Homo sapiens: one gene and its partner. The protein of the gene in region 2 interacts with the protein of the main gene of each other region in a pairwise test. Each region holds a gene or a part of one and is shown on either strand. Other genes may lie near its edges.

Region 1 (3,500 bases), on a different chromosome or scaffold from region 2:
GGAGATCTATGAAAAATAACATTTGAGAAAATTTTACTTGCCAAGTAGTCACTAATACAGAGTACTTATAATAGTGGCTTGTCATCACAAACACCTGGGATTTTTTAGGGGCTGTAAATGACAGAATACTGTGACTTTGGCATTCTGGCCTCAGGATTCATTATCAAGGGTTTCATTTTCATTCAGAAACATTTCTCCGTGGGAATCCCACTCACACGTATTTTTGTTGGCACTTGGGCCTATTAAAGGTGTGGTCTAGCATTTGCTCTTCACTCATCTTAAGATTATTTTCCCATGTACAAATGCTGGTCCTGGCATGAACAGGGTACCACTTAAAAATCATTATCCCTTCAGATGCTCCCTGAAAAATTAGTTATACCACCAAATTTATAGAGAAAGTTTCACAGAGTCCTATTTTTACAAAGCATTATGTTGAAATTGACAGAACCTTATGAAAGCAAGAGTTGATGGCAAGGAATTAAATGCAGCAGAAGATGCCATTTTGCTACAAAATGTCAGAGTTCCAAGCCTGAAAACAAACTCTAATTGTCCCTTTCCAGTGACTAAGCCAAATAGATAAAGAATCCCCCTGTCTCCTTGTATTTTTTAGAGCATTCTCCATCACTAGATACTCAAAGCAAAAAATGCTAATGGCAAAACTTCTAAAAAACAGACACCAGCAAAAATTTAGGGAAGATATGCCTCAAAATGTGTCTCAAAAGCGGCTCTCAGTCACTCAGCTCAGCACCCAGCAAGACTGTATGCAACTGCCCAGAGAGTGGGCTCTATTTGTCTGGCCCTGTACAGTTCACAGAGTATGTTAACAGTTATGATCTCATTTAGGGCTCAAATAACCCTCTGTGGCATGCAGGGGGTTGATAGTAGTTCTATTTTGTATGTTAAGAAACTGAGGTAAAGGGCAGACAATGTTTTTCCAAGATCTCTCAGCAGGAAATAGAAATGTGCAAGTTCTCTGCCTCCTATTCCCATTATCCTCCCTCTACCACACTTTCCATCTGTTTTGCCATTTTATCCTAGAAAGCATTCATAATAGACCCCAACTCTTTCCTAAAGAAATAAAAGTGAAAAAAATTATAAATCTCATTGAATATATTAGAAGGAATCAAGAAAAGAAACAATATGGAACTATCCCCAGCATTAAAAAGTATACATTTACATATATATGTAAATATATATATATATATACACACACACCCCTATATATATGTAAACTATATATATCCCATATAATAATAATCATATATACATGGGATTATTTTAATATGTATATATATTAAAATAAGGGATTGGGTTAGACATTATGAATTTGTTTTTAATAGTAAATATGGTTATTTGTGTTTTTCAGAGCCATTTAAGGAACAGAGTTGAAGTATCTATTGATACATAATGATTTGGGGAATAGATGGTTTGGTCTTCCAGCTCCTTCAGCAATTTCTTCTATCTCTTTGTTTCTAGAAAGGAAGCATATTATCAGGTTCAGTTCTGTGCTTAAGATATAAACCTCTCTGGTGCCATCACAGAAAAGGTTTCATTTGATTGAAAAAGGCTTTTTTTTCCCCCTCAAGATTTGGATGCTGCTGCAAATCTGTGTGTCAATATTATAGTCACTTCACTAAATAAATAAATGCTTTGCTGACATGTGGAACTCCTCATCTATAGAAATATAGCATATCCACTCTCATAGGGGCCTAGAAAAAATGAAAATTATGTTTTACCATTTATCCATATAGTTAACAGCCAGAAAACAACAGAGGAAATTAAAAGAAAACGTGTTTGGAGAAAGGCTCCCCTTTCCTAACCAAGCCAGAAGGATGGTTTGACTTCAAAAAGACAGACTGAGGCATTATAATAGGCTTGTTGTCCCAGAGTCTCTTGTGCAAAAGCAACTGATGAGGCGCTAATGAGGCACTAATCACTTGGTCCAGGGGGCTGGAAAGATACTGATGGCTGGGAGAACGCACTTGTTTTCCTCTCTGAAAACCTAGGCTAAATCCCAAGCTTGGTTGATGTGCAGGCTAGGAAAGAGGGAGATGAGCCAATAGGGCTTTCCCTGGCTTTTCCCTGGCCTTAAAGGGTGGGGTGGGGAGCAGGGAATGGACAGCAAGTGTTCAGAGTTTGGACAGCTTCCAAAGGAGGGTCACAAGAGATAAACTGCCATAAAACAAAAATGGGACTGACTCCTCAGTGTGGGGGGGATGTTTGCAAACTTGTTCAGGGCAGGATCTTGAGATGGTATATAATATTTCAGTGATAACCAACTTGAGCAATGGATGAGAAACAGATTGGCTTGCCCCATCTCTGGAATTAGAGGGGCACAGGACTGCAACTAGTTGTCAGATGCCCACATTAAGCTAAGGACACTCAAGTGACAATCTAGCAGGCTTGCTCCTAGCCCAGTGCTCTTCTCCTGCCCCATGCTAACCGTTTTGGTTCACGTTCTAATTCAATTTGAGTGTCTGAGCTTCATATCTGACTACTTGTTTCAGCCACAAGATAGGTTCAATAACCTGCTTAAACTACTTCACATTTATATTTGCACTTACTACTATTTGTTACTCAGGAACAAATTCAGTACCATTTCCCCCAGAAAATTAATTAATTAAATAAAATCTGAATCAAGTTTTTGTTTCTCGAAGAAAACCAGTCCTATCTTTAAATATGAAGGTTTAAAGAAACTCAAGATGTAGTCTCCCTTGAAAAAGCCTTAATTTCATGAGCTCCAAAGTGCAGAAAGTCAAAGGGTATGTGTCGATAATAAGAGGAAAGATGAGCTATAGATGACTTTAAGAAATCACACATGTGATGCACACTTCATTGCAAATGCATGCACACAAAGATCAACGGAAGCGACACAAATGGGGCATATGGATTTGTATACCAGTAGGATTGTGGAGGCTTTTGTGTGTGTGTGTGCGCATATATGTACACACGAATAAGTATCATAACATAAATAATTAAAAACGTGAATGTAGTTTGCACTATGAGCACGAGCACCTAGAATAAAACACAATGCTGATAATTGCTTTTAAATAAAGTCATCAAGATTGCCTCCGTATGATTTTTACCTTTTTCAGCCCAGAAAGATATCTTTCCAATTCATAAACACAGTGTCCTTGGCTGGAAACTTCCAATTCTCCTAAAGAAATACCTAAGAATATGCAAGGAGATTCTTATTATTTAAATGAAAGACAAGAGGCAAGTAGGAAAAACAATTTCAAAGGGAATTAGAATCAGTAAAATCTCAGAGAAAATTGTTATCCAGACTTCAGGGTAACGTATTCTAAAACCCTGAGGTAAGTTTCCAAAGACGCCTGCAACCATGCTGAGCAACTCTGTGGAGTCTGAAGGTGACTGAATCTAACCTGAAGGCCTTTTCTCAAAACTTTGGATGTAATCAATGGCCCTATTTTGCAGAAAAGTTGCAATTTCAGCTTTGAGGTTCTATGTGGCTGTTGTGCCACAATGTGGAATTATAGAGT
Region 2 (3,500 bases):
TCCTTTGTTAACTGGCAGTTGGTACTCACAATTCCAAAGCTGTAGACATCTGTTTTAATGGAAAGTTTCCCCTGTCTGATGTACTCTTCTGGCATGTACCACAGATGTTTACTGCTGCTGCTGGTCATATTTATGGTACAACTCTGATGTTCTAGGTGGGACCGGAAGTGTGCCATGGCAAAATCAGTTAGTTTGGGTTGAAACTGATCATCCAAAAGGATGTTTGCACTAAAATTGTGATCAGGGACAAACAAGACAAAATATCATAAAGGCACTTCAGTGTAAACAAACATACTATAAACTCACCTTCTTCATATCTGGTTAATTCGAAACACTGTCAAAATAAAGCCAAACAAATTTCCATGAACTGGAGAACATTCTTTCATTTTTCTTAATGTACAAATCCAAGTGTTATCTGCAACCTAGAATAAAAACCTGACCTATGAACAGTGGGCATTTCAAACTTAAAGATACATATGTGAAGTTGCTGGATAAAGCTGATGCTTTCTCACTAAGAGAAACTGAAGTTAACCAAAACAGCTTTCCTTGTGCTTTTCTTACACTTACGGAGAACATGAACTGAGTTTTAATCAGCTGATTATGTGTCTGTTATGTGCAAGAGCTGTGCTGTGAAATGCTTAGCTTATGAGCGCAGAGCCACTAACTTGGAATGATTTGAGGACTCTTTGGTAGTCCCTGCCCTCATGGCAGCCCTATCCCATGGTTTCATCTCTGTTTTTTGGTCTTTGAGTCTTATTTAAAATACAAATGTTTGCAGAGACAAAGGCAAAGTGCTTATAGTCAATATAAGCAGTTGTCACATTAAAAACCTTAAGAATCATCTGACATTTTGGCTGGGGGTAGGCATTGGCTTACTTTTACCTTCAAAGGGCTGTCAAAGCAGGAACCGGAAAGGATAAGCCAAGAGAGAGATCCATTTCCCACTGCATACAGCCAGGAGCTCTGCCTTTCCCTGGCTCCATGACCACCCACAGTTTCCTTCGCCATGTAAGCCTCAGTGCCCTCTCTCCTCTCATGTGAAATGAGGAGAACAGAACTCTGGCAGGGGGAAAACGAAGTGCATAGTGTCCTCCCCAGCACTTGGTAATGCTCAAAAAATGGCAGCTAGGAGGAAGATTAGTAATCAATTCTAAGAGAACAGATGGATATTGAGAAGGAGGTGGGGCAGCCAACAGAAAGGCATGCAATTCCCAGCTTTGCTTAGGGCTCTTCAGAGCTTGCTCTTTATTTCCTGAAACCAAAGCATCTAATAGTACACCTTCCCATCCAAAATGCCAAGAGGCATATTTGTAGTACGACATGCTGTTACTAAAAGTGCTACAGCAACAGCCACGGGATATCAAGAAGTTCTTAATTCTGAACAAATTTTGGATCTTACAAAAGCTCCAGAAGTCTTTGCTATCCCTATACAGGTAGGTTAACGGGCAGGCCCCAGTTCCATAGGTCTGAACTGCAAGTGTTCTTACTGTTCAGAGGACTCAGAGTCCTACTTCTATTTAGAGAGTTTGGGGGAAACAGTTCAATGTATGAAGCTAAGGCCTTAAAGATTCTAGTCCAGACTTTGTCTAGGGCTGAGTTGACAACAGAAAAAACAAAGGCACTTCCGGTGGTCTTTTTTTTTTTTTCGAGACAAAGTTTCATTCTTGTCCCCCAGGCTGGAGCGCATTGGCACGATCTCAGCTCACTGCAACCTCTGCCTCCCGGGTTCAAGTGAGTCTCCTGCCTCAGCCTCCTGAGTAGCTGGGATTACAGGCGCCTGCCACTACACTCGGCTAATTTTTAGTAGAGATGGAGTTTCACCATGTTGACCAGGCTGGTCTTGAACTTCTGACTTCAGGTGATCCACCCGCCTCGGCCTCCCGAAGTGCTGGGATTACAGGCATGAGCTACTGCGCCCAGACCCCGCGGTCTTTTAAGGATAAAGACACATTTTAAACTTTATTTCACTCCTCCTTCCGCTAAGGGTGGCAAGGGAATTGTAAAATCCAAAAAGCCCACCTTCTGAGCTCTAGGGCCTCTTATCAGCTGTGTGCTCTTAGCATTTATGGAAGGAAGGTCAGAGAGGCCTGGTTCCCAAGGCTCGTATCAATGAGCACAGTTGTCATTTCTCTCCTTGCCTTCTCCCTTCTCCCTGGAGAACCCAGCAGCTGCTAAAGCCAGCCTGGGCCTCACACACCCCCATCTGTCACTCCTCACCCACTCTTACTTTCTCACTTGGAGAACTGTTGACTATCCTGACATACCTCAGATGAGGAACAGACTAGAGTCAGATCCGACTTCTCTCCAGCTCTAGATAAGAAGAGACTGTCAGTTCATAATCACTTCTTCCCTAGGTTGACTCTTCAATGGATCAGATCAAGTCTGAGGCTCCTGGAGATGCCCTGAGGGTTTCAGAGTCCTGGGGGCATTTGAATGCAGGAGTTTGCCGGTGGGCCAGGAGGCGAGGTGGGAAAAAAAGGTTCTCCAACCTTCATTGCCAGGACCCCACCTTCTGCCCTTCAACTTTGGAGTCACTTCTGCATGCCCCATTTCATTTCAGCACAGGGGGAGGGTGGGAATGTTCTGAATGGCAGATATTCAATGTCAAACACCTAAACATCTTCCTCTATCACAGCTCTAAAAAAAGGCATAGAATTATAATTGACAATGCCAGAATCATGAGACTGCAAAAGCTGAATTTTTGAAACACACACACACACACAAAAAAACCCTGAATCTTTTAAGTACAAAAAGGGAGAAAAGAGCAACAGTAATAACAACAAAACCTTCAATCTAATTCTTTATTTGACCCATAGCAAAGCTGGTGGGATGCTTTCAGCAAATGGTGAGTCAGCTTCTGTGAAAGTTGGGCAGAAGGGAGTTGAGTAACCACAAACAATGCTTACACCATAAAACCCAGAGAGGACTTTGGGTCAGTGAAAGGCCATCAACAAGATGTGAAATTATTCTAGGGTACTGAATTTACAATTTGAATAATGACAATCGGTGAAAAGATAAGTCGTTTTTCAGCTGACTTTAGTGTATAACATAAATTTTGAGTCCAGTGATTTATTCTGTTCTAAATAAAGGTTAGCGGTAGCTGAGGAAGAAGGATGTTCTGTTTTAGGAAAGCGGAAATTGCAAAAGGCCCTTCAACGATCAATTTCTACCTTAATTCTTTTCCCCTGCTTCAACCTTAAATAGAATGTTCAAACACAAAGTGTCTTCAGCTTCCATGCAGGTCAGCTGAGTAAGTTAATCCTGTGGGGTGAAAATAAACTAACAAAATTAAGAACCTAACACAACTACAGTCATGGCAATATCATGCAAAAGGGCAGCCTGCAAGCAACTGTGGCCACCAAAGAGATAGATAAAAGACATCTTTGACCCATATCCATGGTTCATATCCTCAATTTCATGCTTCTACAATCGATTTGTTCTACTCTTTATCACAAGGCTATTTACCTTAACAGAGAGGCCATCCCCTCTCCAGATAATTC

Evidence for each region.
Region 1: the proteins of IRAK3 (region 2) and NTRK3 interact in a two-hybrid assay, tested with the Homo sapiens proteins (one large-scale study listed by BioGRID and IntAct).

What each region holds. Positions count from the first base shown.
Region 1 is NC_000015.10:87,865,240-87,868,739, forward strand, and holds part of NTRK3 (NT-3 growth factor receptor isoform a precursor), read right to left. Parts: 3' UTR 1-3,500. UniProt on the Homo sapiens protein: Receptor tyrosine kinase involved in nervous system and probably heart development.
Region 2 is NC_000012.12:66,241,214-66,244,713, reverse strand, and holds part of IRAK3 (interleukin-1 receptor-associated kinase 3), read right to left. Parts: intron 229-3,500; coding exon 30-228; intron 1-29. UniProt on the Homo sapiens protein: Putative inactive protein kinase which regulates signaling downstream of immune receptors including IL1R and Toll-like receptors.